Regions from separate parts of the Homo sapiens genome. Here region 1 is linked to region 2. Evidence: fine-mapped expression QTL. Tissue or cell type: whole blood. Region 2 holds a variant in brackets; the other region holds the start of a gene. All regions are shown on one strand. Distances are from middle to middle.

What was found.
Region 1: CPNE8 starts here. The variant in region 2 is fine-mapped to the expression of CPNE8 in whole blood (TOPMed, PIP above 0.99).

The regions. Positions count from the first base shown.
Region 1 is chr12:38,896,502-38,913,379 of GRCh38, forward strand. CPNE8 (copine 8) reads right to left here and starts at 9,090. Exons shown (of 20, transcript NM_153634.3): 1 at 8,936-9,090. The coding sequence starts at 9,033. It overlaps CPNE8-AS1 (CPNE8 antisense RNA 1), which reads left to right and starts at 9,211. Exons shown (of 2, transcript XR_007063275.1): 1 at 9,211-10,496; 2 at 12,809-13,091. RefSeq lists a silencer at 9,075-9,244 and an enhancer at 10,375-10,634.
Region 2 is chr12:38,088,783-38,105,660 of GRCh38, forward strand. No RefSeq gene overlaps it. Among named protein-coding and RNA genes, the nearest start is that of ALG10B, 220 kb to the right of the region's middle. RefSeq lists an enhancer at 10,485-10,779. The variant C/T (reference allele first, on the strand shown) is at 7,647.

The sequences.
Region 1 (16,878 bases), 810 kb after region 2:
CTACAGCAGTATCTGTTTTATCATGCCCAACACAAAACAGCTGTCTTAAATATCAGCCCGTTGACTTTATTGAGCAGATACAAGAATGTTCTTTTGTTCTAAAACTTGGTTATTATAGCAGACTACCTCCTACCTGTCAAATCCCACATGACTGATTGTGTCTTGGCAGAAGTGGGCCTATGGGGTGGAATCTGTAGAAACTGAGTGTGCATTTACAAATCCACACTATTCTAACGACTGTTTTATTCCACACTCTCTCCACATTGAATTAATCAGCATGGGATAACATGCAGCTTTATCACTGTCACCTTGGTTCTATGTTTCTGTGGCTCCCCAAATTGACTATAAATTTTTCCAAAGTACAGATACCTTCTTCTATGTTGCTGTGTGCCACACAGTAAAATGCTGAAGAACCTGGGATAAGACTAATAGCCAGTTAGTGCTTTTCTTGTGACAGGCTGGGCATTGTACAGACTTTATTTCATTTACTCATCCAACAACCTTGAAATTTTGGTTTTTAAATAATTTCTATGTTACAGATTAGGAAATGAGGTTCCAAAAGTTGAAACAGGTTACCCAAAATAACATTCCAAAAAGGGATAAAAATGAGATTTAAAGACATCTGTCTGATTTCTAATTCCATTTTCTTGCTGCTATACTCTGCTGCCTCAAATTCTCATTAATCTCTAAATGCAACATTCTTATGGTAATAAAAGTATTTAGAAAAGTGCAGCCAGTAGCTTAGCCTTGATTCTGCGTATTTAAATAGGAATGGGATGGAAGTAACCAAAACAAGCTACCAAAATCCCTTTGAGAAGATAGCTTATTAATCATTTCAGTTCTAGAAAACTATCCCCAGGAAAAAAAAGTAACCAGAGATGTTAGATGTTTGTGATGGAGAATACTCATTTTTAACACTGTTTTGAATAGCAACTTTTTGAAATAAATTTTGGAAAACAAGGGTTAAGTTAAATAAACATAGTACAACCATATAATAGAATACTGCACAGACATGGAAGGTTATATTTCCAAAAACTAATAACAACAACATATTCATGATATAATATTAAGGGAAAAGTACAGGAAAAATATTGTATAGAATATATAATTATATTCTATATTAATACACACTATTAATATATTACATATTGTATTATGTATTATATATTATATGTGTGTATATATTAATATACACAGAGAGAATATAAATGTGATGCTATACATGAGACAAAAATGAACTCATTTGCTCATAGTTTGACGCAACAGCGAAGGATTTTAATTTTTTTATTATCTCTTTGTAATCATTGAGTGCTTAACTAATGTCACAAGCAGTGTTTTATCTCACTTACATGTATTAACTTATTTAATCCTCAAAGCAAATATAAGAACTGGGGGCTATTATTATCCCCACTTTACAGATGAGGAAACTGAGGAACAGATGTTTCAAAGATACTAAGTGGCAGAGCTAATCTAGCCCTACACCCACGTTCTTCAGCGCTAAGCAAAACTGGCTCTCAAACAGGCTAAGAACTGGATGAAATCTCTTTGAGAGGAATTGTATTTCTTCTCAGTCTTGAGTAAACTCAAATAGGGGATATAGGCTTCTGCCTGCTACAACACAAATAACAGACCTAAAGGAGCACAGCTATTACCACCCTCTCCTGTGGGATCCTGTCCTTTAAACTGCTTCTAGATTAGCATTCTCCACATACCAGGGCTGTTTTAAAACCCCTCAGGCCCCAAATGCTAAAAAACACAGGCAGACCAAAATACTGGTGGAACAACAATGTTAAGTAAGGTATTTCTCTGAAAAAAAAATATACCAGGGCAACTCTCACATTAAGACTTCAACGCCACAGTTCAGAAAGTTCCCAGGACAAATTTTACTGAAACTCTGGGGCTAAGACAAACCTAAATATGATCAAAAAAGGCACTACAGGGTGACTACAATCTTGAACCACAGGATCTCAAGAGCTGCAGAGACAGAATAGGATGTTACGGTCTACAACAACTTTACCCTCTGTTTACCTGTCATATGGCTCATTAACAGCACAACAGGCAGTCTAATATCCCTAGCTTATATAACTTAATTTATCAACTAACAACATCACTTGAAAATCTATTTACATAGTATCTCCAAATTTTTTGTCTGACTAAAGAAAGGTAAAGTATGCTAAGAGATGAACCAATGTGGACTAAGGTAGAGCCTCCAACTGTTGTGTTTGAATGCTTTGATTCCTTTCACCGCAGATCATTAGAACAGCACAGGTATCTACCTCAGACAGCCAACTCCAAAAAGGGTCAGACACTCTCTCTTGGAATCTAACTTTGCTTTCGCAGATGGTCAGTTAATCACTAAGTGTAGCTGGACTTGTAACATGTAAACTTGCAAAGGATATGCCACCAGTGGATGGAGAAAGAGGGAAAGAAAAATACAACTTCAAAGTAAGAGAAGAATAAAAGTGTAGAGAGAACCACATGAAAAGGAGAGGGAGAAATTTAAAAGTCTCTAAGTTCCTAACTGCAATATACCTGCTATCACAACTTTTATGGATTATAAAATCATACAACCCCACTTATTCCAGTAGAGAAGGAAGACCAGAGATAGTGCTGAACTTGACACTACCACTTCTAATAGTGACAGTCTAACAAGAGTGTTATGAACTGAATGTTTGCGTCCCCCCAAAATTCATGTGTTGAAATCCTAACCCCTAATGTGATGATATTAGGAGGTAGGGCCTTTGGGAGATGATTAGGTCATGATGATGGTGCCTGCCCTTATGAATGGGAATACTGTCCTGATAAAAGGAACCCCAGAGAGCTCTCTCACTCTCTGTAGGCCATGTGAAAGTACAGTGAGAAGCTGGCAGCCTGTAACCTGAAAAAAAAGCTCACATCAGAACCTGACTATGTTGGCACCCTGATCGCAGACATCCATCCTCTACAACTGTGAGAAATAAATGTATGATGTTAATAAGCCACCTTGTCTCTGGTACTTTATTATAATAGCCAGAACTGAACCAGACAAACAACAATAATTTTCTTTTATATAAGGCTTTACCTTTTCCAAAAGTCCATAAACAGTGATGTGCAAGTATATATTTTAAAACAACCTCTTCAATAAAAAGCTGAACGTTTGTGTGTACAAAATTTGTTATTTTTTACTGATGTGTAGAGTATGTAGCTTGGCACACAATCTACAAATAATAAGTTGCACATAGTACTTTTATTATAAACTCCATAGAGTCAACTGATTCCCACAGAATGATTTCTTAAATACAGATGACAAAAGGGTAAGTCAAACACTGATTTGCAGTGTTTGCCAATTCCCATGGTGTAAATATTCCCACTATGGCTTATTTCAAGCTGCCAAGGTGGCACACATGAATTGGGAAGAGAACAGAAGCACAGCACTGCAGAATACTTTCAACACACAGATTTAAAAAATAGAGAATAGATGATTATAAAAAAAAACAGATGACAGTAACATGTAGTAAAGCAATTAGGAAGTTATAACCTTTCAGCATTTCTTAAATTTATTTTTAATATAATTTAATTTTGTTTATATAATTCAATTTTTAATAGTCACTTTAACAACTGACTTACAAATTTCTGTTCCCAAACCCATTTAAGCTCCAGCACACCATCAAAAAGTATCTTCCTAACACCCTAGTAGGGTGGGTTTTACTAACTCAGATCAAGGGACTAGAGTTAGAGTCACTTACTCATGAAACCAAGAGATGAAAATAATTAGTGTGTATAACCAGCACAGCTTGAACTTGTTAAAAGCTCAGATTCCTGGGTCCCATCCCCAGAGATTTTGATTCAATAGATCTGCTATGGGACCTAGGAATGATATTTTAACAGGAGAAATCCCTCTTCCCACATTAGACAATTTGGCTATAGAACTGCAGCATCAAACATTTACTAACTACATATTCTGTGCCAAGCTCAGAATATAGTACATGGACATGAAAGAGACAAAACTTGTCCTCAAGGAGAATAGAAAGACTAAGAGTGGTAATATACCTATGACACTGGCACACCTCAGCTACTTTGGGACTAATCCAGTTTAGGAGCACAGCCTAATCCAGAAAAGAAGGGGAAGGGAGGTAGGGCAGGGCAAAGAGCAGCACCTGTGTAGCCACAAAAGCATGAGGAGTTTGGTTGTCTAGGATGAACGCTCACACTTTGGGACTGTACCTTTTATAAGTATTTTTTAGCCGTATTTCTCGGGCATGCATTTTGGGCTATGGCACACATCTGTTTATCAGACTATATACAGTTGCTGGGTTCATGCAAGGAGTGATGGGAGATGAGGCAATAGACTTACACCAGGTCAGGAAGGGCTTTTTAGAATGCCTAGCACCACGTAGGCACTCAACCCTTTTCCACTTCATAGTCTTCCTTCCACTTTAATGTTTAAAGTCAGTATTGGCCAGGGGGGCAGTGGCTCAGGCCTATAATCCCAGCACTTTGGGAAGCCAAAGTAGGCAGATCACTTGAGGTCAAGAGTTCCAGACCAGCTGGCCAACATGGTGAAATCCCATCTCTACTAAAAATACAAAAATTAGCTGGGCGTGGTGGTAGGCACCTGTAATCTCAGCTACTCGAGAGGCTGAGGAAGGATAATTGCTTGAACCTGGGAGGTGGAGGTTGCAGTGAGCAGAGATCGCACCACTGCACTCCAGCCTGGGCCACAGAGTGAGATTCCATCTCAAATAAATAAATAGTCAGTATTATCACCATTATAGGATTATTTCTGTGACAGGATGTACATTTGATACCTAACATGCAAAGTCTAGAAATACACAATATTCTCACTGCTTTTATTATTGATAAGCTGACTTCTCAATCAGAGAAAATGATGAAAATCAGTGAAATAGTGCAACAAAATCAAGGACCCAAGGAAAACAGGTGATTACTGCATATTATTTTTCCCAGTGGGTTTACCTCATTCTATAGTAATAAGCTTTCAGAATAAAATGGAAATATTACCTTAGTTTATCTCTCAAGGTTGTATCATTTCAGCTACAGGCATTTTTAGTTAATTAAGTAAGCTAATTAATTTAAAAATCTACAAATTTATACAATAAAAGAAAATGAATGCAAGAAGAGCTAGACAATGGGTAGAAGACGAAGGAGGTCAAATAGCAGGAGCTTGCCTTTGCATAAATACATCTAGAAAAGGGTACCTCTCACCCCCTTAACACAAATTTAAGTGGCTATAAATTTAACCACTGTCCCTTCTCTAATCCAAACCATGCCTATCCAGCTTGTCTCTGCCCAAGCCCCATCTCTCCCCTTTGTAATATACTCCAAGCACCCTATTCCACAATGATCCTTTCCCTCCTCATGCATGAGCCTCATCTTTGAATTTAGCCCCGTTACCGTGTCTTATGTAGTGTTTATCTCTCAATCAGATTTTACATTTTCAGAGAACTTCTTTTGCATTTCTCATGGACCCTAGCATAAACATAGACATATAAAAGGCACTCAGACACTTGATGAATAAACAGACTAAATTATTTCCATGAATTATATTCAAGCTTCAATCGTTTATCTTTTTCACCTTCCCCAAAATGAAGATAAAAACTTTGTCATAAAGCTTTTAATGATAGGGGACAGTGAAAGGAGGTGAAAGAAAGGAAATGAAGAAAAGAAAAGGAAAGGAAAGAGAAAAAAGAAAAGAGAAAGAGAAAAGAAAGAAAGAAAGAGAAAGAGAAAGAAGGAAAGAAAGAAAGAAAGAAAGAAAAAAGAAAGAAAGAAAAAGAAAAGAAAGAAGGAAGGAAGGAAAGGAAGGAAGGAAGGAAGGAAAGAAAGAAAGAAAGAAAGAAAGAAAGAAAGAAAGAAAGAAAGAAAGAAAGAAAGAAAGAAAGAAAAGAAAGAAAGAGAAAGAAAGAAAGAAAGAAAGAAAAAGAAAGAAAGAAAGAAAGGAGAGAGAGAAAGAAAGATAAAGAATGAGAAAGAAAGAACCTATTCAAATCTGAGCTGCTTTTGAAGTGTGGGCAAATCCTCAGAAGTCTCTGGTATAGTAAGGCAAGGGAATTCCTTACTCTGCCTGCCCATAGCAAGGCTCAGAGGCCTTCAACTGTGCTTTGTTGCTAAGTGAAATCCCCACAACCTTTCTACAAAACATGTTCTTGATGCACATCAAAGAAGATAGAGAAAGCGGGAACAGGTATCCCAATGCTGGTTCTATCCTTGTGTTCTTTAACCAACTTATTGAAGTTCAAAAGAGAAGGACTTTTACAGAATTCCATACCTGAATCATATATAACACATTTATTCAACAAATGTTATTTCCAGTATTATAATAATAGCTAACATTTTTGAAAACATGTTTTTGTTTCATGCATTGTGTAAGCGCTTTCACACATCACCTTGATAACACTCTATATAAGGTAAATACCATAACTATTCTTATTTTTGGAGATGAGAATGCTTAGACAGACTGAATAAGAACTTACTCCAAGGTAGCAAGAACAAGTCACAAAGCCAGAATTTGTACTTAGGTCTCTGATGCCAAAGCCCAAACTAAACCACCTCCTATGGTTACAAGATCCAACAATACTCAAATATTTTTATCTTTGAATTTTAATGTATTAAAAATAAATTTAACCCACCTTTTCAGGAACTATTCCCAAACCTATTCCAAAGGCACTAACTTGGGTATTTAATTATGTTTCTCTTTGCCCAAAAGATGCTTTTTACCTCAAACTTATCGTAAATAGTAAGCTGAGTCAGAAGCAACTCAAACAATAGACTAAGCACTAGTGCCCCTGGCAGAGATGCTTGACACTAAGTATTCAGGTTCTCTTTCAGGATTTTTTTTTCCTGTTAGAAATCTTAAAAATTAAAAACAAAATGTCAAAGCAATGTTATGAAAAAAAGCTGGAACAAGGGATTTGCAGGTTCTGAGGCAGCAAACTGAAACAAATTGCCTTAAGCCAATTGACTTCAGTATGCCCAGCACACTCACAGAAAACATGCATCAAAAAAGGGGCTGCATTAAACATGGGCCCTACTGGCAGAATGACCAGTTTAGGTATAATTTCCCTTAAAAAGCTCATGGAAAAATTCAGACTTGATTGACAATATTCTTTTATATTCATTCCAAGTATAGGCCACATGCCATTCAGACTTTGCAGACTGTTGAGCAGAGGATAAGAACTCTAGTAATGCTGTTATTGTAGGACTTCCGGCTATCCATTATCTGTATATACCAGTAACTTCCCTCTAACATCGAAAGCAAGCTTCAGAGAAAAGAAAAAGGCCTAGGAATCCTCTAAAGAGTTTTCCAAACAGCTTCACCTGTTCCATTGACAGAAAAATCTCAGGCAGCACTTAAAGCAGTGACAGCAATGAGGCAAGAGCTTAATGATAGCTATCATTATCAGCATGATTATTTCCATAGTCCCAGATCAGTCTTAAGAGGCGGCAAACAATCAGGTGATATAGTTTCAGGGCTAGATAAAGGCTGTCCCCTACCCTCAAATAATACTTCTACTACGGTTGCTGGTGCTCGAATTTTCACCCCCAGAAAAGAATTCCTTTGGCTTTAGGCTCAGTTTGTGAAAATGCAAAGTCAAGATTGATGGAATTTTAAACTTATTTACATCAAGATCACCCAAATTTGTTAGATATCTTCAAGGCAAGTTTGCTAAGGAAAGGAAAGGGAGGATGTGAGGGCATAAAAACAATCTTAGGGCAAAAATGGATAAATGAGGAGCCAGTTTTCCAGTGAGACAGACCCAATTATGCAAACAAGGGAGTGGGCTCCAGGGTCAATATTAATTCGCAAATTAGTGGCCAGTACCAATTTAGCACCATCGCTCATCTCCTTCTCAAAATCATCTATGATATAGCGGTGATGCTGCTTTATTTACAGGGCAACTAACCGAAAGGTCAGGACAACGAGTTTGCAATTTACAGTCTCTGGACAGGGTTGAAAGTCAGTTTTTTTTTGTTTTTTTTTTTTTTTTGAGATGGAGTCTTGCGCTGTCGCCCAGGCTGGAGTGCAATGGCAAGATCTCAGCTCATTGCAACATCCACATCCCGGGTTCAAGCGATTCTCCTGTCTCAGTCTCCCGAGTAGCTGGGACTACAGGCGCGTGCCACCACGTCCGGCTAATTTTTGCATTTTTAGTAGAGACGGAGTTTCACCATATTGGCCAGGCTGGTCTCGAACTCCTGACCTCGTGATCCACCCGCCTTGGCCTCCCAAAGTGCTGGGAATACAGGCGTATAAACTGTACTGAGCCACTGCGCCCGGCCGAGAGTCAGTTTTTACAAGCACTCAGATGTGGGCCCGAAAACAAATCAAAACAAAAGTCGTGACTTCCCAGATCTTAGGTAAGGCATAGATTCGTCTGCAAGGAGGGCCGAAATCTCTACCTATCAGGCAAAAGGCAAAAAGCCCGGAAGGGTCGGGGAGAAGCAAGCTGGAAGGCTCCAGGAAGTGGGTGGGGAGGAAGCTGCCGGGGTTGGAGCCAACCCTAGCAACAGCAGGTTTGCACACGCCTAGCAGAGGAAGTCCCGGGCCTAAGCGTGCAGCGGTCACAAGAGCTTTTGGCAGTGCTGTCCCCTTCGATTCCGGTCATCACCCAACCATCCAGCCCGGGTTTGGGGCGGAAAACCGGCTTGTAAAGTGGGCGGCGGCCGGTGTTCCCACAGCTGAGTCACAGCCCAGCCAACTTTTACAGCGTTTCCCAGAAAGAAAATACAAAGTCTCAGTCCCGGAGCCCACCGCTTCTAATTCCCGCTCCCCTGTGTCACCTGACCCGGGGTAACTCCAGCCCCACTACTGAGATATTTCCCACTCATGGCGCAACTTCTTGCCTGCGCAAAGCCTCGTGGTACCCCGAGCGCTCTCCAAGTGCTACCAACCCCACAGATGAGAGGGCAGGAGAGAGGGGAAGGGCTGCGTCCTCACCTGCAGGACACGGACACCTCCACCCGCGTGGCCGGGATGGCAGCGCTCAGCTGGTTCAAGTCCCCGATGCCCGCAGTGCTGTTGTAGCGGCTGTCCATATTGGGAGGAGGCGCCTTGGACTTGTCCGGCGCCCACAACCACAGCTCGGGCGGACTGAGGGCTAGCTCCCGTCAGGCGGGGATGGGGGTTGAGGGTGGAGGCAGAAGAAGGAGGCGGAGGCAGCGCGCGGGATGGGGGAGGGAAGGGAGGAGGCGGACCTCCGCGCAGAGCCACGAGGGAACCGCTAGCCAGTCCTGGGTGAAACTGACGCTGCCAGGCAAGTGGCGCGCGGGGATCCCGGTTTCCCAGCCCCCTTCCGGCAGGCAGCAGCCCGGGCGGGGGACACACTCCGTGATCCCCTCCTGGCTGGAGGGGTCAGGCTTGGTGGACCCAGCAAGCAGCCTGATGGAGAAGGTGGCACCAGACGCAGACCCCTACCGTCCAGGACCGCAAGCCCTCGCCGGCTCTGCGTGCTTTTAGGTTTTGTCTCCACCTCTGCACACCCACACTCGCCTCCTGGGCCGCGACAGCTTCCTTCTGTCAATCAGGTGTGGACGGGAAGGTCTCGAAGTTTCCTCGCCTGAGTTGAAAGCTGGAGGTGGGGGCACCTCTGCCCGTTCCTAACTGCCCCGTTATAAGGTCCCCCTCCCCACAATTGGTTCTCACCTCGCCCTCGGAGCTCTTGGGAGATCCCTCCGTCCCTCCTACTGTGCCCTCGGGCAGATGAGTCTGGTCCCAGCTTCTGGACTGCCCACTGTCGGCCACTTGAGAGTTGGGGACGGTGGGGCATTGTGACGCTCTCCAACCTTGGAACACGGTGGCAAAGTGGCCGATCAATATATGGGACAAGTGGGGGCGGGGGGGCGGACTCTAAGGTGGAAAAAACAATACTACTTGGGATTTAAGGAAGCAATCTGGATTCTGTCTCCCCTTGGTTCTTCGGAGCTTAGAGGTCTAACGGCGACATTCCTCCTACAGTAAGGGCTCTTCTGGGTCCCTCGTTTCCAAAGGCATGAAAGTTCTGACCTGAAAATGGGGGCCGGGGAGGGTGATGTCACAACCATATAACGCAGCTCCTTCAGCCGACTCCCACCCGCAAGAACTGAGACCTGACGGATAAAAGCAGAGAGGAGTCAGAGTGAGCGCTGCGTTTGGGAAACTGCATTCCAGGGCAGCAAGACTGGTGCCAAGACGGAGTCGTGGCAAAAGCATCCGGAGGTAGACGAGGCGCCCCTCCACTGCAGGGACCTTTGTTCCCCGCGCCTTCCCTCCTGCCTCACCCGAGCGCCTGCGGGTCCCGGGAGCTCGCCACCAGGCGGCGACGGAGAACAGGATGCGGCGCAGCTGGAAGGCAGAGGGTGGAGAGGGGGCGGGTGTCCGTCCGATTTAACGCTCCAAGCACGGAGTTTCCAGCTGGTTGGGCTAAGTCTGGGAGGAGCAGTTTTTGCGGTGGAGGACTTGCCTTGCGTTGTAACATTTTAATCCACTTGCAGCCTCCTGCCTAGAGAATCTATAGAGGCGGGTGAGAGTGTGTAGGTGCAGTCTTGCCGATTCCCCTGCCGAGTGTACTTCCCCTGTTTCTTCTTGCTTTCCTTTCCTGATTTCCCCACCCACCGCTTTTTCTTCTTTTTTTTTCCTTCCTCTTGTCCTATTACAAATTAAACTGTAGTTTACTGCGATTTGGAAATGCCCTAAAACCCCAGGCATTTCTATTATGCTGCTCAAAGTTAATTTGGCATAGAGATCTAGGTTTTTTTTTAAGCTCACCAGAATTTTACTTTACAGAAGCCTACTGAAGAGATGAAACTTGAGAACTTTAGTAGTCAACATGTGGGATACTTACATCCAATTTGTTTCCACTTCAGTGAGGTATAACATATATAATGAACTGCACTTAAAGTGCATCCATCATTCGATAAATGTTGACTCATGTATCTCCCTGTGAAGCCATCACCAAAATCAAAATAATGAATCATTCCATCACCCAAAAGTTTTCTTACGTCGTAATCAGTACCTCCTTTCATCACTGAAACAACCCTCTAAGCAACCACTGATCTTTATGTCACTATAGAAGAGTTTGCATTTTTAAAAATTATGTATGTGGAATCATAAAGCAGGTAGTATTTTTGGTCTGGCTTCTTCCACTAAGCAAAGTTCTTTTGAGATTCATCTATGTTAGCATCAATAGTTCATTCTACTTTTTAAATATTTATTCATATATACAAAGAAATAAATTTTTAATTTATTTTAAATTAATAAATTTCATTTATTTAATGAAATAAATTTTTAATTTATTTCATTGTATATATGCGCTATAAATTGTCCATTCACCTGATGATGGACACTTTGGTTGTTCGAACTTTGGGCAATTACAAATGAAACTGATATGAACATATATGTACAACTCTTTCTGTGGACGTATGTTTTCATTACTTCTGGGTAAGTACCTAGGAGTGGAACAGCTGGATCATATGGAATGTGTATGTTTAACTTTTTAAGAAACTATTAAGGCCAGGTGCGGTGGCTCATGCCTGTAATCCCAGCGCTTTGGGAGGGTGAGGTGGGCGGATCATGAGGTCAAGAGATCGAGACCATCCTGGCTAACGTGGTGAAACCCTGTCTCTACCAAAAATACAAAAATTAGCCGGGCATGGTGGTGTGCGCCTATAGTCCCAGCTACTCCGGAGGCTGAGGCAGGAGAATCTCTTGAACCCCTGAGGCAGAGGTTTCAGTGAGTGGAGATTGATCGCGCCACTGCACTCCAGCCTAGGGACAGAGCGAGACTCTGTCTCAAAAAGAAAAAGAAACTATTAAACTTTTTTTTCAAAAGAGTTTTACTACTTTTCTTTACCACAACAGTATATAAGAGATCTGGTTGCACACATCCTTGCCAACATTTATGATGGTCTTTTAAATTTTAGCTTATCTAACAGATGTGTAGTAATATCTCATGTGGCTTCATGACAAATGATGTTGAACGTATTTTCCTATGTCTTTTTGCTATGTGTATACGTATCTTCTTTGGTGAAGTGTCTTCATATATTTTACTTATTTTTTTATTATGTTGTTGGTTTTCTTATTTCTGAGTTTTGAGAATTCTTTATTCTGTATCCAAGACCTTTATCGCATGTGGTTTACAAAATATTTTCTGACAGTCTGTGGCTTGTGTTTTCATTCTCCTGTCTATCAAAGAGAAGAAGTTTCTAATTTTGATGAATCTAGTTCTTCAACGTTATCTATTATAAATCATAATATTGATGTCAAAACTAAGAAATATTTGTCTAATGTGAGATCACAAAAATTATCATCTTCTATACTTTCCCCTAAAATTTTAGTTTTAGGTTTTACGTTTATCTCTATAATTTATTTTGGTTTTTCTAATCAAAGTTCTCATTTTTACACATTGTCATCAGATTTTGCTAGCACCATTTGTTGAAAATACTACCCTTTTTCATTGAAAAATCTTTGCATCCTTTGCCAAAAATTAACATATATCTATGAGTCCATTTTTTAGACTCTATCCTATTCCATTTACCTATTTGTCTTTCTTTAAGCCAATGCCACAGAGTCTTGATTACTATAGCTTTAAAATAACTCTTAAAGTCAGGTAGTATAAATTTTCCAACTTTGATCCTCTTCAAAATTGTTTTTTCATTTTTAATCCTTCTCATTTTCATATAAATTTTAGAATCAGCTAGACAAGGTCCACAAAAAGTCTTGTTGAGATTTTCATTGGGGTTGCATTGATTCTATGGACAAATCAGAGAATAATTGACATCTGATCCAAATTTATCTTCTGATCTATGAACATTATATATCTTTCCATTTATTTAGGTCTTCCTTAATATATGTCAGCAGTGGAGTGGTGTGCTTAAGGAGAGAGAGACTTGGAAAAATACAGACCGAGAACAAGGCCATGTGGAGATAGAGGCAGAGACTGAAGTTGTACCACCAAAGGCAAAGAATATCAAGTATTATCAGTAACCACAGGAAGCTGGAAGAGGCCAGGAAAGGTTTTTCTTAGAGACCTTGGAAGGAGCCTGACCCTGGAACACCTTGATTTTAGACTTCTGACCCTCAAAATTGTGAAAGAATAAATTTCTGTTGTTTTAAGCAATTCGGCTTGCAGTAATTTGTTACAGCAGCCCTAAGAAAAGTAATACATATCGATAACATTTATTATTTCCATTTTGCTGACTCTTTCAAGTTCTGTGCTTATAAATTCATCATAGTGAAGTAAGCTTTAAATGATAAAACTTTGAAAGTATACTCAAATTCTGTTGCTATAGTTAGCACAATACAGAAAGGAATATAATTTTTAAAAATAAATTTTAATAATATAAATATAAATTATGACATGTCTAAACTTTTATTTTGGAGATTTTATAATAAAAAGTTTATATTTATTAAAATTCATTTAAATTAATAACATAAAGCCCTTGGAATATGCTAAAAATCAAAGATAAGTTACATTTACTATAACGTAATAAACCATCATTCACTGAATCAGTGATTTAGCAGACATTAATTCAATGTCTGCTATGCACTAGGCACTGTACTAGATCTAAGAGCTAAAGCTCCTTCTGGCACTTATAGACCAAGTAAAAGTTAGCAAGGAGATACATTATTGGGTAAAGATTATACTGACTGAGTCATCGAGCTCTGTTTTTTAAATAGTTTCAACTTTTAGATCTCTGACGTACATGTGCAGGTTTGTTAAATAGATAGATTGTATAATGTTGAGGTTTGGGATGCAAATTATCCTGTCACCCAGATAGTGAGCACAGTTCCCCAAAGTTTGCCTCCATCCTTCCCATCCCCCTCTATCAGTCCCCAGTGTCTGTTGTTGCCATCTTTATGTCCATGAGCACCCAAAGTTTAGTTCTCACATATAAGTAAGAATGTGCAGTATTTGGTTTTCTGTTCCTGAATTAATTTTCTTAGAATAATGGCCTCCAGCTGCATCTGTGTTACAAAGAACATGATTTTGTTCGTTTTTATGGCTGTCTAGTATTTTGATGGTGCATATGTACTACATTTTCCTTATCCAATCCACTGTTGATGGGCACCTACATTAATGCCATATCTTGGTTATTGTGAATCACGGAGTTCTTTTCATTTCTGAGATTTTATTATTTCACAAGATTAGAGAAGACTTCAATTTGTAAATTCAATGATTATTAACCATTATTTTCAGAAGGACTTATTTACAAAATAGCTTGGTTAAGGAGAGGCTAATGAGAAAAACACATGAAGAGAAAGACCAAACAAACAAGAAAACAAAAACAAACAAAAAAAAAAACACTGTTGAGTCTCCAATGAGAGCAACAAAACAGAAAGAAGGGAACATACTTTTTGAAGAATGTCCCTGAAACAGTGTATGCTTATAATATAAGGATAAAATATATTTACCTTGCCTGGCAAGTGATGTATCAGCTCACACATAATCCAAAACAAATTGGACTGAGCATTTCTTCAGGGTATAGCTTCATCATGGAACATTTGCGCTATTGGCTCCAACAACTATCCTAGCCAAAGATAAGTCAGAAATACCAGCATTGCCCTATGCTCACCTTTAAAATACCCTCAGGAATTGAAGAAAATACATAGTTCTCTAACCTCTGTGGATAGCTTTATAATTACTTTAGCTAGTTGACCTGCTCTATGAAGACACAGCTTAAAATAAAATAAACTTATATCACAGCAAAAATGGGCTAGTTGTTTAATTTTAGGGAGTGACAGATGAGGGAAGACATTGTGATGAGTGGCCAAAACATGTTTTCTGAGTACCTGCCTTCTCTCTGGATCAAATAACCACCTGGTTTTAAACCGTACAAAGTGGATCAAGTATGTAAACAATTCAATCATTTCAAACATTCAAATTGTTAATATCACTAATGCTGTTTGCTTAAAGTTACCTTCGTGACCAAGTAAGATCAGTGTCTCACCAACCTCATAAATTACCACCTTGCTAATAGCTAAGACAGTCGGAAGACTATCACTTTTAAAATCAACTTTAAAATACTACAAATAATAACAGAGTTAAGATCTGTCATGAATAAGTGTCTAGGGACAGTAAATCCAATATTTTAATCAAGTAACACTTTTCTAAGGGACCATGTATGATTATTTAGGTAAACCTAGTCTCAAGTAAATGTTTCCAAAGTAAATTTTACACTTAAGAGAGCACATAGAATGCAAAATCTTTTCAATTTCAGAATTTCACACTTCATATTTAAGCATATAATTTATTTCACATGATGTTTTGAAGGTCTTGGGTTGGTTTGGATATTTGTTTTCCATTATCACAGAGTCAACTGGCTCCACCCACTGGCTATTCAGTAAAGGGAGGCCATAAACTTGCAAGAGTTAAGAGAGAGTGTAGATCAGGAAGGTGACCAAACGGAGGTTAGTTATTTTACTATAACTGAATCTTCTATTATTTTTAATGATAATACTTCAGCTATCTATTGTTGCATAACTAGCCCTCCAGCATTTAGTCATGCAAAACAACATGATTTTACTCTTTTTCATGATTCTTTGGGTCAGAAATTAGGGCACGGCTTGGCCAGGCAGTTCTGCTCCATGTAGCATCAGTTTGGGTCATACATATGGCTGCATTCAGCTAGAGGCTGGCCAGACTGGAAAATCCAACAAGGCTTCATTCCCATGTCTGGCAGCTCAGTGCCTTTCCCCCAAGTAGCTGCTCTGTGGTTTCTCCTCCTTCTCGAGTCTCTCCTGAGCTTCTCCACAACACAGTGGCTGGCTTTCCCAGAGCCAAAGTGGAAGCTGCCAGGTCTCCGAAAGCCTCGGCCCAGAATTGGCACAGTGTCACTGATTTCTAATTGTCAAAGCAAGTCTCAAGGCCACTGTAAGGAGTTGGAGGGAGCGGGGTGGCTGACTTGACTTACAGGGTAGAGCAGCATGCACGTATTATGAGGGAAGGAATTGATGGCAGGCATCCTTGGGGACTACCTACTTAAAATAGTCAATAGAGGCTAAAATAGCATGTATCCCCCACTTTAAAAAAAAAAAAGACATTCATATTTTTTTTTCACTAGTTTAGACTTTTTCTAATTGAAAAGAACAAATACACTTAAGGAACCAGAAATCTCGTAGCATACATTGTAATGAGTAGGCTCAGAGTAGTGAGCAAGTATTTGTCTTTAAGAATTGCTGTTATGCCAACTATAGGCTGAACAGTGGGGGTGGAGGAAGAAATATAGAAGACATGAAGGATATCTTCCCTCCTTCCAAGCATCTTAGAGTTTAGTGTGAGACCCAGCTTCAATTCATTGCACCAATAAAGAATATGAAAGAGCAAGAGGTAAGCAATGATTTGTCATGAGATAATGTGATATAGACTAATGTAATTGATGCTCAAGGGAAGGCATATTAATGAGAAAGACAAGCTATTAAAACTTTCCTGGAAAAATGGGACTTGACACTTTCCAACAGGTAAAAAAAGACAACTGACCAATATAGAAAAGGGTTACAATATAAGTAAATATAGAAGTAAAATTAAGTACTACATATGTTTGCACAGTAGAAAGACAACCAAACTCACCAAAGAAGTGTGCAAATTTGGATAGACAGCACAAAGTTATCTTAAAAGATCTTGTAATTAAAGTGAGGATATGTAAAACTTTCAGCAATCTAAAATTATACAATTCTGAACTGTAGTAGAGTAGCCATGAGTCACAAGTGGCTATTTAAATTAATTGCTATTTAATAAAATTTAAAATGCAGTTCTTCAGTTGCACAATTAGGTGGGTGCAAAAATAATTGCAGTTTTTGCAATTAAAAGTAATGGCAAAAACTGCAATTACTTGTGCACCAACCTAATACATTTCAAGTGCTCAATATCCACACTTGGCTATGGGCTACCCTATTGATAGACAATT
Region 2 (16,878 bases):
ACACTGGTGACAGAAGAGAAAACGCCGGCATGAAGGCTAGGTGGGGGAGAGATGCCAGGCTGTGGGGCTAGGCCCTGGGCATGCTGAGCCTGTTATGTCACTGGACATCTAACTGCCCGGGCACCAGCCCTTGTCACATCAGTTGAGGTAAGAAGATTGGGCAGTACTCTTCAGAAGTCACACTGCTCTGGGAGAATGGAGGAGAATCTACAACTTCTCATCCTAGGGTAGGTTTTAGAGTGAGCTGGACACTCTTGGAGAGCTAATGAGATGGGAGGAAGGCAGTCCCCCAGGTGCACCTGATGGCCAGAACCTAGGAAGTGAGGCGGGGTGTGTGCGGGTGGCCAGTCCCTATGAGAGGAGGAGTTTAAAGCTTTTACAGCTGGTGGCTGCTGCTCAGTCATCCCTCTGCATAGCAGGCAGGTCCTCAGCCACACGTATAGCTGAATGTCTTTTGGAGTGTTTAGAGGGTGCTGTATGTCTTAGAAATTCCTTTCCCCTGGCCTTGTCCAGTGAACACGGTTCACATGGCCAACACCACTTCTTGAGATGTGGGCATCATGCTAAGCTGAGAATGGATTGGGTTTAGTTACCATTGTGCCTCCTCCTCACCTGAGAGGCCTATTTTCTTTGGTTGATTCCTTAAGTGTATTAGTGCTGTCAGTCACTTTTGGACAACTGAAATGACAAGTGGCTGTTGTTTCATTAAAAAATGAAGGCTTTGAATGTGAAACCCTCCTTTTCTCCTCTCCTTCTCTTAGATGAAAGATTTTGTTTTATAAAAAAGGGTACACAGTGGTATCCCAGCAGGTGTAGTGTGAGAACTGGCATGTGCTAGGCTATGGTTTCAGTGTGGATGGGCAATTCTTCAGGATGGAAAACCAAGTCTCACTGAGTTGCTGGAGCCATACTCGCCTTTCTCCACATCCCCCACCAAGGGCTTTCACTTTTCTCCCGTGCTTGAATTTTTTTAACATACATATTTTTAACATACATATTGTTCATATATATATGAACATATATATATATAACTATATATATGAAATATATATATATACACACAAACACACACTCGTACATACACATACAGGTCTCTGTCACCCAGGCTGCAGTGCAGTGGCTGAGTCATGGGTCACTGCAGCCTCAAACTCTCAGGCTTAAGTGATGTTTTCACCTCAGCCTCTCAAGTAGCTAGGACTACAGGCAAGCAATGCTATGCCCAGACAATTTTTAAATCTTTTTCTAGAGACTGAGCCTACTTATGTTGCCCAGACTGGTCTTGAACTTCTGGGATCAAGCGATCATTCCACTTTGGCCTCCCAAAGTGTTTAGATTACAGATGGGAGCTACCAAACTCAGCCAAAAATATTTTTTAAAGAACTGTTATAAGCAAATTATGAGTTATGATTGCACCACTGCCCTCCAGCCTGGGCACCAGAGCAAGACCTTGTATCCAAAAACAAAGCAAAATGAAACGAAAAGAAACTTACAACCAAATTAAACTTCAAAGATTGTGTCATCTGTGTCCAGCCCTGCCCTCCAAGCCATCACAGTTAAATATAATGGTTATTGAGAAAACAGTTAGATATTGTTAAGAAATTTTTATATATCCTCCAGCTGAAAATGAGGTATTCAAATGTGGCCCAAATATTTTCTCACCGCTACCTTCAGAATCTGAACTAGCAAATCAAATCAAGACACCTGCAGAGGACAGTTGGCTGTTTTCAAATAGAAAGAGAATTACCCCCGTTAATAAGAGTAATACAGTGATTTTCAAAAAGAAAAGTCAGACTGAGATGCAGCACAGTCAGGGCAAAACTACCCTGGAAAAACCTCTTCACACAGAATGGTTGAGGAGACTTTCTTAGATGAGCAAATTTGGGCAACATAATTCTCGCTTATTTATTCCCAAACCAACTTCCCACCTGATTCCTAATGGCCACCCCACGATATGGTCAGCAATGGGGTGCAGCATCATGAGAGAGGAGCTCAAGGATGGGATAAGGGTCTTTCCTGCATGATTAAAATGCTTAAAAAGTTGTGGAAAAGGTGTCCAAATTGTTCTACTTCCTACCTTTAAATAGGTGCTAAGATGCATTATAAAACAGACTCAGGTAAGGGAAAGAACAAGTGCATTTCAAGTCTAAGTTCGCTTCTTAATTAGCTGTGATACTCTGGGCATGTGATCCCACTATTTGAGCCCATTTGCCTGTTCACCCAAGACAAACCTAAGCAAAAATAACAAGGCTTGTGGCATCATGCTACCCGACTTCAAACTATATTAAAAGGTTATAGCAACCAAAACACATGGTACTGGTACCACAACAGAGATATAGACCAATGAAACAGAACAGACACCTCAGAAATAACACTACACATCTACAACCATCTGATCTTCAATAAACCTGACCAAAACAAGCAATGGGGAAAAAAATCCCTGTTTAACAATGGTGCTGAAAAAACTGGCTAGCTTTATGCAGAAAACAGAAACTGGAGACCTTCCTTACATCTTATACAAATATTAACTCAAGATGGATTAAAGTTTTTTTGTTTGGTGGAGCCAAGATGGCCAAATAGGAACAGCTCCAGTCTACAGCTCCCAGCATGAGTGATGCAAAAGACGGGTGATTTCTTCATTTCCAACTGAGGTACCAGGTTCATCTCACTGGGGAGTGTCAGACAGTGGGTACAGGACAGTGGGTGCAGAGCACCAAGCATGAGCCAAAGCAGGGCAAGGCATCACCTCACCCGGGAAGCACAAGGGGTCAGGGAATTCCCTTTCCTAGTCAAAGAAAGGGGTGACATATGGCACCTGGAAAATCGGGTCACTCCCACCCTAATACTGTGCTTTTCCAATGGTCTTAGCAAATGGCACACGAGGAGATTATATCCCGTGCCTAGCACGGAAGGTCCTATGCCCACGGAGCCTCTCTCCTCGCTAGCACAGCAATCTGAGATCAAACTGCAAGGTGGCAGTGAGGCTAGGGAGGGGCACCCGCCATTGCCGAGGCTTGAGTAGGTAAACAAAGCGGCCAGGAAGCTTGAACTGGGTGGAGCCCACTGCAGCTCAAGAAGGCCTGACTGCCTCTGTAGACTCTACCTCTGGGGGCAGGGCATAGCCAAACAAAAGGCAGCAGAAACCTCTGCAGACTTAAATGTACCTGTCTGACAGCTTTGAAGAGAGTAGTGGTTCTTCCAGCACACAGCTTGAGATCTGAGAATGGACACAATGCCCCCTCAAGTGGGTCCCTGACCCCCAAGTAGCCTAACAGGGAGGCAATCCACAGTAGGGGCAGACTGACACTTCACACGGCCGGGTACTCCTCTGAAACAAAACTTCCAGAGGAACAATCAGGCAGCAACATTTGCTGCTCACCAATATCCACTGTTCTGCAGCCTCTGCTGCTGACTCCCAGGCAAACAGGGTCTGCAGTGGACCTCCAGCAAACTCCAACAGACCTGCAGCTGAGGGTCCTGACTGTTAGAAGGAAAACTAACAAAAAGAAAGGACATCCACACAAAAACCCCCTCTGTACGTCACCATCGTCAAAGAACAAAGGCAGATAAAACCACAAAGATGGGGAAAAAACAGAGCAGAAAAACTGGAAACTCTAAAAATCTGAGCACCTCTCCTCCTCCAAAGGAACACAGCTCCTCACCAGCAATGGAACAAAGCTGGTTGGAGAATGACTTTGACGAGTTGAGAGAAGAAGGCTTCAGACGATCAAACTACTGTGAGCTAAAGGAGGAAGTTCGAACCCATGGCAAAGAAGTTAAAAACCTTGAAAAAAAATCAGATGAATGGCTAACTAGAATAACCAAAGCAGAGAAGTCCTTAAAGGGCCTGATGGAGCTGAAAACCATGGCACAAGAACTACATGATGAATGCACAAGCCTCAGTAGCCAATTCAATCAACTGGAAGAAAGGGTATCAGTGATGGAAGATGAAATGAATGAAATGAAGTGAGAAGAGAAGTTTAGAGGAAAAAGAATAAAAGGAAATGAACAAAGCATCCAAGAAATATGGGACTATGTGAAAAGACCAAATCTACATCTGATTGGTGTACCTGAAAATGACAGGGAGAATGGAACCAAGTTGGAAAACACTCTGCAGGATATTATCCAGAACTTCCCCAATCTACCAAGGCAGGGCAACTTTCAAATTCAGGAAATACAGAGAATGCCACAAAGATACGCCACAAGAAGAGCAACTCCAAGACACATAATTGTCAGATTCTCCAAAGTTGAAATGAAGGAAAAAATGTTAAGGGCAGCCAGAGAGAAAGGTCGGGTTACCCACAAAGGGAAGCCCATTAGATTAACAGCAGATCCCTCGGCAGAAACTCTACAAGCCAGAAGAGAGTGAGGACCAATAGTCAACATTCTTAAAGAAAATAATTTTCAACCTAGAATTTCATATCCAGCCAAACTAAGCTTCATAAGTGAAGGAGAAATAAAATACTTTACAGACAAGCAAATGCTGAGAGCTTTTGTCACCACCGGGCCTGCCCTAAAAGAGCTCCTGAAGGAAGCAATAAACATGGAAAGAAACAACTGGTACCAGCCACTGCAAAAACATGCCAAATTGTAAAGACGATCAAGGCTAGGAAGAAACTGCACCAACTAAAGGGCAAAATAACCAGCTAACATCATAATGACAGGATAAAATTCACACATAACAATATTAACCTTGAATGTAAAAGGGCTAAATGCTCCAATTAAAAGACACAGACTAGCAAATTTGATAAAGAGTCAAGACCCATCAGTGTGCTGTATTCAGGAAACCCAGCTCACATGCAGAGACACACATAGGCTCAAAATAAAGGGATGGAGGAAGGTCTACCAAGCAAATGGAAAACAGAAAAAGGCAGGGGTTGCAATCCTAGTCTCTGATAAAACAGACTTTAAACCAACAAAGCTCAAAAGAGACACAGAAGGCCATTACATAATGATAAATGGATCAATTCAACAAGAAGAGCTAACTATCCTAAATATATATGCACCCAACACAGGAGCACCCAGATTCATAAAGCAAGTCCTGAGTGACCTACAAAGAGACTTAGACTCCCACACATTAATAATGGGAGACTTTAACACCCCACTGTCAACATTAGAAAGATCAATGAGACAGAAAGTCAACAAGGATACCCAGGAATTGAACTCAGCTCTGCACCAAGTGGACCTAATAGACATCTACAGAACTCTCCACCCCAAATCAACAGAATATACATTTTTTTCAGCACCACACCACACCTAATCCAAAATTGACCACATACTTGGAAGTAAAGCTCTCCTCAGCAAATGTAAAAGAACAGAAATTATAACAAACTAACTCTCAGACCACAGTGCAATCAAACTAGAACTCAGGATTAAGAATCGCACTCAAAACCTCTCAACTACATGGAAACTGAACAACCTGCTCCTGAATTACTACTGGGTGCATAACAAAATCAAGGCAGAAATAAAGATGTTCTCTGAAACCAATGAGAACAAAGACACAACATACTAGAATCTCTGGGATGCATTCAAAGCAGTGTGTAGAGGGAAATTTATAGCACTAAATGCCCACAAGAGAAAGCAGGAAAGATCTAAAATTGACACCCTAACATCACAATTAAAAGAACTAGAGAAGCAAGAGCAAACACATTCAAAAGCTAGCAGAAGGCAAGAAATAATGAAGATCAGAGCAGAACTGAAGGAAATAGAGGCACAAAATACCCTTCAAAAAATCAATGAATCCAGCAGCTGATTTTTTGAAAAGATCAACAAAATTGATAGGCCGCTAGCAAGATTAATAAAGAAGAAAAGAGAGAAGAATCAAATAGACGCAATAAAAAATGGTAAAGGGGATATCACCACTGATCCCACAGAAATACAAACTACCATCAGAGAATACTATAAACACCTCTACACAAATAAAGTAAAAAATCCAGTAGAAATGGATAAAGTCCTTGACACATACACCCTCCCAAGACTAAACCAGGAAGAAGTTGAATCTCTGAATAGACCAATAATGGCTCTGAAATTGAAGCAATAATTAATAGCTTACCAACCAAAGAAAGTCCAGGACCAGATTGATTCACAGCTGAATTCTACCAGAGGTACAAGGGGGAGCTGATACCATTCCCTCTGAAACTATTCCAATCAGTAGAAAAAGAGGGAATCCTCCCTAACTATTTTATGAGGTCAGCATCATCCTGATACCAAAGCCTGGCAGAGACACAACAGAAAAAGACAATTTTAGACCAATATCCTTGATGAACATTGATGCAAAATCCTCAATAAAATACAGGCAAACTGAATCCAGCAGCATATCAAAAAGCTTATCAACCATGATCAAGTGGGCTTCATCCCTGGGATGCAAGGCTGGTTCAACATAGGCAAATCAGTAAACGTAATCCAGCATATAAACAGAACCAACGAGAAAAACCACATGATTATCTCAATAGATGCAGAAAAGTCCTTTGACAAATTTCAACAGCACTTCATGCTAAAAACTCTCAATAAATTAGGTATTGATGGGATGTATTTCAAAATAATAAGAGCTATCTATGACAAACCCACAGCCAATATCATACTGAATGGGCAAAAACTGGAAGCATTCCCTTTGAAAACTGGCACAAGACAGGGATGCCCTCTCTCACCACTCTTATTCAACATAGTGTTGGAAGTTCTGGCCGGGGCAATCAGGCAGGAGAAGGAAATAAAGGGTATTCAATAAGGAAAAGAGGAAATCAAATTGTCCCTGTTTGCAGATGACATGATTATACATCTAGAAAACCCCATCGTCACAGCCCAAAATCTCCTTAAGCTGATAGGCAACTTCAGCAAAGTCTCAGGATACACAATCAATGTGCAAAAATCACAAGCATTCTTAAACACCAATAACAGACAAATAGAGAGCCAAATCATGCATGAACTCCCATTCACAATTGCCTCAAAGAGAATAAAATACCTAGGAATCCAACTTACAAGGGATGTGAAGGACCTCTTCAAGGAGAACCACAAACCACTGCTCAAGGAAATAAAAGAGGATACAAACAAATGGAAGTACATTCCATGCTTGTGGGTAGGAAAAATCAATATCGTGAAAATGGCCATACTGCCCAAGGTAATTTATAGATTTAATGCCATCCCCATCAAGCTACCAATGACTTTCTTCACAGAATTGGAAAAAACTACTTTAAAGTTCATATGGAACCAAAAAAGAACCAACATTGCCAAGTCAATCCTAAACCAAAAGAACAAAGCTGGAGGCATCATGCTACCTGACTTCAAACTATACTACAAGGCTACAGTCACCAAAACAGCATGGTACTGGTACCAAAACAGAGATATAGACCAATGGAACACAACAGAGCCCTCAGAAATAATGCTGCATATCTACAACTATCTGATCTTTGACAAACCTGACAAAAACAAGCAATGGGGAAAGGATTCCCTATTTAATAAATGGTGCTGGGAAAACTGGCTAGCCATATGTAGAAAGCTGAAACTGGATCACTTCCTTACACTTTATACAAAAATTAATTCAAGATGGATTAAAGACTTAAATGTTAGACCTGAAACCATAAAAACCCTAGAAGAAAACCTAGGCAATATCATTCAGGACATAGGCATGGGCAAGGACTTCATGTCTAAAACAC[C/T]AAAAGCAATGGCAACAAAAGCCAAACTTGACAAATGGGATCTAATTAAACTAAAGAGCTTCTGCACAGCAAAAGAAACTACCATCAGAGTGAACAGGCAACCTACAGAATGGGAGAAAATTTTTGCAATCTACTCATCTGACAAAGGGCTAATATCCAGAATCTACAATCAACTCCAACAAATTTACAAGAAAAAAACAAACAACCCCATCAAAAATTGGGCAAAGGATATGAACAGACACTTCTCAAAAGAAGACATTTATGCAGCCAAAAGACACATGAAAAAATGCTCATCATCACTGGCCATCAGAGAAATGCAAATCAAAACCACAATGAGATATCATCTCACATCAATTAGAATGGCGATCATTAAAAAGTCAGGAAACAGGTGCTGGAGAGGATGTGGAGAAATAGGAACACTTTTACACTGTTGGTGGGACTGTAAACTGGTTCAACCATTGTGGAAGTCAGTGTGGCGATTCCTCAGGGATCTAGAACTGGAGATACCATTTGACCCAGCCATCCCATTACTGGGTATATACCCAAAGGATTATAAATCATGCTGCTATAAAGACACATGCAAACGTATGTTTATTGCAGCACTATTCACAATAGCAAAGACTTGGAACCAACCCAAATGTCCATCAATGATAGACTGGATTAAGAAAATGTGGCACATATACACCATGGAATACTATGCAGCCATAAAAAATGATGAGTTCATGTCCTTTGTAGGAACATGGATGAAGCTGGAAGCCATCATTCTCAGCAAACTATCGCAAAGATGAAAAACCAAACACTGCATGTTCTCATTCATAGGTGGGAATTGAACAATGAGAACACATGGACACAGGAAGGGGATCATCACACACCAGGGCCTGTTGTGGGGTCAGGGGAGGGGGGAAGGATAGCATTAGGAGATATACCTAATGTTAAATGACGAATTAATGGGTGCAGCACACCAACATGGCACATGTATACATATGTAACTAACCTGCACATTGTGCACATGTACCCTAAAACTTAAAGAATTAAAAAAAAAAAAGACAAAAAACAAAAAAAAAAGTTTTTTTGTTTTGTGATTTTTTTTTTTTTTTTAAGATGGAATCTCACTCTGTTGCCCAGGCTGGAGTACAGTGGAGTGATCTCTGCTCACTGCAACCTCCGTTTTCAAATAGAAAGAGAAATACCTTTCTAGCAATTCTCCTGACTCAGCCTCCTAAGTAGCTGAGATTACAGGCACCCACCACTACGCCCAGCTAATTTTTTTGTATTTTTAGTAGTGATGGGGTTTCACCATGTTGGCCAGGCTGATCTCGAACTCCTGGCCTTGTGATTTGCTTGCCTCAGCCTCCCAAAGTGCCTGGATTACAGGCATGAGCCACTGTCCCTGGCTGTATTAAGGTCTTACATGTAAAACCCCAAAACATAAAAACCCTAGAAGAAAACCTAGGCAATACCATTCAGGACAGAAGCATGGGCAAAGACTTCATGACTAAAACACCGAAAGCAGTTGCAAAGAAAGCAAAATTGACAAATGAGATCTAGTTAAACTAAAGAGCTTCTGCACAGCAAAAGAAGCTATCATCTGAGTGAACAGACAACCTACTGAATGGGAGAAAATTTTTGCAATCTATCCATCTGACGAAGGTCTTATATCCAAACATAAACAAATTCACAAGAAAAAAAAAAAACAAACAAACACCATCAGAAAGTGGACAAGGGATATGAACAGACTTTTCTGAAAAGAAGACATTTGGCTGGGCGAGGTGGCTCAGGCCTGTAATCCCAGCATTTTGGGAGGTCGAGGCAGGAGGATCATGAGACCAGCCTGGCCAACATAGTGAAACCTCTTCTCTACTAGAAATACAAAAAACTAGCTGGGCCTTTTGGTGTGCCCCTGTAATCCCAGCTTCTTGGGAGGCTGAGGCAGGAGAAACACTTGAAACTGGGAAGTGGATATTGCAGTGAGCCGAGATCCTGCCACTACACTGCACCCTGGCTAACAGAGCAAGACTTAGTCTCAAAAATTAAAATAAATAAATAAATAAATAAGACATTTATGCGACCAAAAAACATAAACCTCATTATCACTGGTCGTTAGAGAAATGCAAATCAAAACCACAATGAGATACCATCTCATGCCAGTTAGAATGGCAATTATTAAAAAGTCAGGAACCAACAGATGCTGGTGAAGCTGTGGAGAAATAGATATGCTTTTACACTGTTGGTGGGAGGGTAAATTAGTTCAACCATTGTGGAAGACAGTGTGACAATTTCTCAAGGATCTAGAACCAGAAATATCATTTGACCCAGCAATCCCATTACTGGGTATATACTCAAAGCATTATAAATCATTCTACTATAAAGACACATGCACACGTATGTTTATTGCAGCCCTGTTTACAATAGCAAAGAATTGGAACCAACCCTAATGCCCATCAGTGATAGACTGGAGAAAGAAAATGAGGCACATATACACCATAGAATATTATGCAGCCATAAAAAAGGATGAGTTCATGTCTTTTGCAGGGACTTGAATGAAGCTGGAAACCATCATCCTCAGCAAACTAACACAGGAACAGGAAAACAAACACCACATGTTCTCATTCATAAAAGGAAGTTGAACAATGAGAACACATAGACACAAGGAGGGAAACATCACACACTGGGGCCTGTCAGAGAATGGGGGTCAAGGAGAGAGAGAGCGTTAGGAGAAATAACTAATGCATGTGAGGCTTAAAACCTAGATGGCGGGTTGATAGGCGCAGCAGCCGGGCAGGGCGGCTCACGCCTGTAATCCCAGCACTTTAGGATGTGGAGGCGGGCGGATCACCTGAAGTCGGGAGTTCAAGATAGGTGCCGCAAACCCCCATGGCACATGTAAACCTATGGAACAAACCTGCACGTTCTGCACATGTATCCCAGAACTTAAAGTTTTTTTTTAAAAAAGGGCACTAAGGCTGAGGGGGAGTGGCGGTGGGGGGGGAGTGGGTGGGCCCTGGAGCTTTATGCAATCGGTGGCGGTGGCGTGGGAACAGCCCAATCAGGCACGCAGTTGGAGAGGAAGGAAGGGCGTGGCTTCCAGTGTTTGGCGGGAACTTTTTCTCTCCCTGGCGCCAGAACTTGGGATCCATCTCTACTCTTCCACCTTCTCCATGTTGGGAGCTCCATGGGGCCTTCCTCACAATCTCTTTTGCCCTGTAATCTGAAGGTACTTGGGGACGCATAGCTAAGATACCAGAACATCCTGGAAGCTGGGAAATGGTGAGTAAGGGGGTTCGGCACCCCGAGAGAAGAGAGCAGGCTGTGAAACCAGCAGGACCGGCCTCCCCACAGTCATCTCCAAGTCTCTGGCGCAGCTTGGCCCTCAGTCCCCTGTGCCTGCAAGATGGTGGCTGGGCCAGCAGCAGGGACCCCCGTGTCCGGCCTCATGCCCTCCGGTCCCGTCCCTGCGTGGCGTCCTGCTGTGCGCCCACAGTGCGAGTATTCCCCAGATTGTTCGGGGATGCCAGGTGGGTCATCAGGGCAGAACCCCCACTCGGTGTGTGCGTCGGAGGAGCTGCAGCCCGGGGCGTCCCCAGTCTCTCTTGTTAAAAATAAAAGGGGATTCCATGTTAAAACGTTAACCACTTTATTTGAGCAAACAGTGATTGGTGAAATGGAAAGCACCCAGCCATGATTTGTGGTCCACCCGAGGGGCATGAAGGAAAGGCTTTTACAAGGTGCATAAGAAAGCAACCCAATTTCAAGAAATGGTTAGAGTTGGCAGGGCACGGTGGCTCACACCTGTAATCCCAGCACTTTGGGAGGCCGAGGTGGCCAGACCACCTGAGATCGGGAGTTCAGACCAGCCTGACCAACATGGTGAAACCCTGTCTCTACTAAAAATACAAAATTAGCCGGGCGTGGTGGCGCATGCCTGTAATCCCAGCTACTCGGGAGGCTGAGGCAGGAGAATCAGTTGAACCTGGAGGGTGGAGATTGCGGTGAGCCGAGATCACGCCATTGGACTCCAGCCTGGGCAACAAGAGTGAAACTCTGTCTCAAAAAAAAAATAAAAAATGGGCTAAAATACATGAACTAAATGATTTCCAATAGCTCCTGCAGCTTTGCCAAGTCCATGTTAAAAAAATTACATGAATGGGAACTGACGCGGTGGCTCACTCCTGTAATCCCAGCACTTTGGGAAGCTGAGGCGGGCGGATCAAGAGGTCAGAAGATCGAGACCATCCTGGCTAACACGATGAAACCAAAATACAAAAAATACCAAAAATACAAAAAATTAGCCATGCATGGTGGCAGGCGCTTGCAGCCCCAGCTACTCCGGAGGTTGAGGCAGGAGAATAGAGTCAACACAGGAAGTGGAGATTGCAGTGAGCCAAGATTGGGCCACTGCACTCCAGCCTGGGCAACAGAGTGAGACTCCATCTCAAAAAAAAAAAAAAAAACTACATGTATGGATTTTTTTCCTGACTCTTAATTTTATTCCATTAATGTGTATGTATTGACCCCCTGTTCTACAACTTTGCAGAATTTGATTATTAATGTTAACAGCTTCATTATTACTGAGGATTTTAATTATATATATAAAATTATAACATCTATATGTAGAAATAAGCTTATTTCTTTTCCAATTGGAGTGTTTCTTTTCTTGTATTGCTCAATTATTCTGACCTGATTTGTATTACAATTTTGATCAGAAGTGATAAACACAACTATCTTTGTCTTGTTCCTGATCTTAAGGAGAAAGTTTTTAGTCTTTCACCATTGCATGTAGCGGTAGTTTTGAGTTTCTTATATGTACCTTTTTTATGTTCAGGAAGTTTTAGTCTATATCTAGTTTACTAGGTGCTCTTATAAAAGTGTTTTGGATTATTTCAAATTTTTTCTCTATCACTTGAGGTGATCACGTTTTTTTCTAAAATTCATTCTATTGAGTTGGTATATTGCATTGACTAATTGCAATTGTTAGAGTGAGAAAAATTGGAGTTACAACTTTTAATGTTTAAAACAATTCATCAGTGAAGCCATCTGATTCTGGACTTTTCTTGTTAGTATATTTTTGATAACGTATGCAGTCTTTTGCTAGTTACAGGTTGTATTAGACTTATTCAGAGAAATAGAAGCAATAGAATAAATATCTACATCTATGTCTCTGTGTGTGTGTATTCATATATATGTGTGTGTGTGTGTGTGTGTGTGTGTGTGTGAGAGTGTGTGTGTTAATATATGGGACAGAGCCCTTTAGAGTTGTCATGGCTCTGTCTGCTCAGGGGGACTTTCTCAGCCATTTCTGGGCTGGTTTGGAGAACCCTCTGTTCTTCCACTCACCTCATTTCAATGCTGGCCCTTGTTGGCAACAGCAAGCTTCTGCCCCACACCAAAGGAAACAGAGTGTTACCCCATTAATACGTTTTTGCCAATCTCCTGTGTGGAGCTCTGCAAAGATAGTAACTGGCAGCCAGATATGGAAGCCTCAGAGCTATTTCTGGCCATCACTGCTGCTCCTTATACACCATGCAACTTTCTGCTCGCCAGGTGAGGCATAGAATTATGTCTATACAGACCTTCAGCCTTGGAAGTCACTAGATAACAGCTCAAGGGCTCAGAACAATCAGTTGAGGTAGATGGGTACCCACAGCAGCACTTGCCTTCCGACTTTGCCAGCCATGATCTGGTGTGTAAACATAATGAGCCACTAGTATTCTAACATCCCAACAATCTGCTCCTGCTCAGAATGAGCCAGCCTCATATAGCATTCCCCTATACACAAAATTTGACATTACATATTTATCCTTTTGTATTTGGCTTATTTTACATAGTATAATGTCTTCAAGGTGCATCCATGTTGTAGCATGTATCAGCATTGCATTTTTTTTTTGAGATGGAGTCTCTCTTTTGTCACCCAGACTGGAGTGCACAGAAATGCAATCATGACTCACTGCTGCCTCAGCCTCCCCAGGCTCAAGTGATCCTTCTGACTCAGATGGACCTCCCCTGTGGCTGGGACTGTAGGCACACACCATCAAGGCCAGCAAATTTTTGTACTATTTGTAGAGATGGTATTTTGCTATGTTGCTCAGGCTGGTCTCAAATTGTCAGGCTCAAGAGATCCTCTCATCTTTGCTTCCCAACATTCTGAGATTATAAGCATGAGCCACCATACCCGGCAGCATTGCATTGATTTTAAGGCTAAATAATATTCTGTTGTGTGGTGTCTATACCACATTTTCTTTATCTCTTTATCTCTTAGAAGATATCTGGATTTGTTTTTACATTTTGTACTGTAAATGATGTTGCTATAAAAATTGGTGTGAAAGTATCAGTGCATAAGTGAATAAAATTTAAAAAGCTGAACACATCTCTGCATGCAGTTCTTAGATTGAATAACAGAGGCCAGGCATGGTGGCTCACACCTGTAATCCCAAAACTTTGGGAGGCTGAGGCGGGCAAATCACTTAAGCTCAGGAGTTCAAGACCAGCCCGGGCAACATGGTGAAACCCCCTTTCTACTAAAAATATAAAAATTAGCTGGGCATGGTGATACATCCTTGTAGTCCCAGCTATTCGGGAGACTGAGGGACGAGAATCGCTTAAGACCCAGAGGCCCAGGTTGCAGCTTAAGTCCTTGCGTTTAATTATTTTGGATACACCTTTAGTTGAGACATATGGAAGTGTTCCACCTGCTGCTGAAACATATGGTAATTATATATAGAACTTTCTGATAAACTGCCAAACTATTGGTCACAGTCTATAAACCATTTTATATTCTCACCAGCCATGCACCAGGGTTCCACTTCCCCTACATACTAGCCAGTACTTTTTCATTTTTGTTGTTTTGGTTTTTATATAGCCACCTTAATAGATGTAATGTGGTATCTTATTATGGTTTTGATGTGCATGTCATGACTGGTGATGCTGAGCATTTTTCTGTAGACTTATTGACTCAATATAGATTCAAGTCCTCTTCCTTTTTATAAATGCTGTTGTTGTTTTGTTTTGTTATTGAGTCTTAGAAGTTCTTTATATATTCTTCTTATTATATTATACCTTATGTACCTAGTCAGATACATGATTTTCAAATCTTTTCTCCCATTTGCTGGTTGTCTTTTCACTCTGTTGTTCATGCTTTTTGTACAAATTTTAGTAGAAGTGGGAGTTCTTTTTTTTGGTAGCAAAAAACACGAACAACAGAGTGTTTTTCTTATCAAAAAAATCAGAAAAGTTTCACATTTTAATCAAGTCCAATTTATATGTTTTTTATTTTGTGTCCTATGCTTTTGGTGTAACAGTCAAGAAACAATCACCAAATTTAATGTTATAAGATTTTTGCATATGCTTTTTCCTAAGAGTTTTTAAAGTTTAACTTTCTAGAACTTTTACAGCAGGTTTGGGGGTACATGTGAAGATTCGTTACATAGTAAACATATATCACAGGGGTTCACTGTACAGATGATTTTATCATCCAGGTATTAGGCCCAGTACCCAATAGCTATCTTTTCTCCTTCTTTCCCTCCTCCCACCCTCTAACTTCAAATGGACCCCAGTGTCTGCTGTCTTCCTCTTTGAGTTCCTAAGTTCTTATTTAGTTCCCACTTACAACTGAGAACATGTGATATTTGGTTTTCTGTTCCTGTGTTAGTTTGCTAAGGATAATAGCCTCCAGCTACATTCCATGTTGCCACAAGAGACATAATCTCTTTATTTTATGGCTGCTAGTGTTCCATAATGTATATGTGACAGATTTTCTTAATCTAACCTGTTACTGATAGTATTTAGGTTGATACTCCATACTGATAGTATTTAAGTTGATAGTATTTTGGTTGATAGTATTAGGTTGATTCCATGTCTTCGCTATTGTGAATAGGGCTGCAATGAACATTTTCATGTATGTGTCTTTATGGTAGAATAATTTCTATGTCTCTGGGAATATACGCAGTAATGGGATTGCAAGCAGAACTATTGAATGGTAGTTCTGCTGTTAGCTCTTTGAGGAATTGCCAAACTGCTTTCCATAATGGTTGAACTAATTTACACTCCTACCAACAGTGTATAAGTTCCCTTTTCTCTACAACCTCACCAGCATTTATTGTTTGACTCTTTAACTATAGCCATTCTGACTAGTGTGAGATGGCATCTCATTGTGGTTTCTTTCTTTTTTTTTCTTTTTTGAGATGGAATCTCACTCTGTCACCAGGCTGGAGTGCAGTGGCACGATCTCAGCTCACTGCAACCTCCGTTTCCTAGGTTCAAGTGATTCTCTTGCCTCAGCCTCCTAAGCAGCTGGGACTACAGGTGCATGCCACCACACCCAGCTAATTTTTGTATTTTTAGTAGAGACAGGACTTCACCATGTTGGCCAAGATGATCTCGATCTCTTGACCTCGTGTTCTGCCTGCCTCAGCCTTCCAAAGTGCTGGGATTACAGTCGTGAGCCACCACACCTGGCCATCTCATTATGGTTTAAATTTTCATTTCTCTAACAATCAGTGATGCTGAGGTTTTTTGCATATACTTGTTGGCCATATGTATGTCTTCTTTTGAAAAGTGTCTGTTCATGTCCTTTGCCCACTTTTTAATGAGGTTGTTTCTTTTGTTGTAAATTTAAGTTCCTTATAGATGCTGGATACTAGATCTTTTTCAGATGCATAGTTTGCAAATGTTTCTTCCACTCACTAGGTTATCTGTTTACTATGTTGATAGCTTTATTTTCTGCTATGCAAAAGCTCTTTAGTTTAATTAGATCTTACTTGTCAATGTTTGTTTTTCTTGCTATTGCTTTTGGTGTTTTTGTCATGAAATCTTTGCACATTCCTGTCCAAGATTCTATTGTCTGGATTGTCCTCTAGGATTTTTATACAATTTGGTTTTATATTTAAGTCTTCAATCAATCTTGAGTTTATTTATTTATTTTTTTTGTATATGGTGTAAAGAAGGGGTCTGGCTTCAATTCTCCACATATGGCTAACCAGTTATCCCAGCAACATTTATTGAATAAGAAATCTTTTCCTTATTGCCTGTTTTTGTCAGCTTTGTCAATTATCACATGGTCACAGATGTGCAGCCTTATTTCTGGGTTCTCTATTCTATTCCATTTGTCTATGTGCCTGTATTTGTATCAGTATCATGCTGTTTTGGTTACTGTAGCCTTGTAGAATAGTTTGAAGTCAGGTAATGTGATACCTCCAGCTTTGCTCTTTTTGCTTAGAGTTGCCTTGTCTATTTGTGC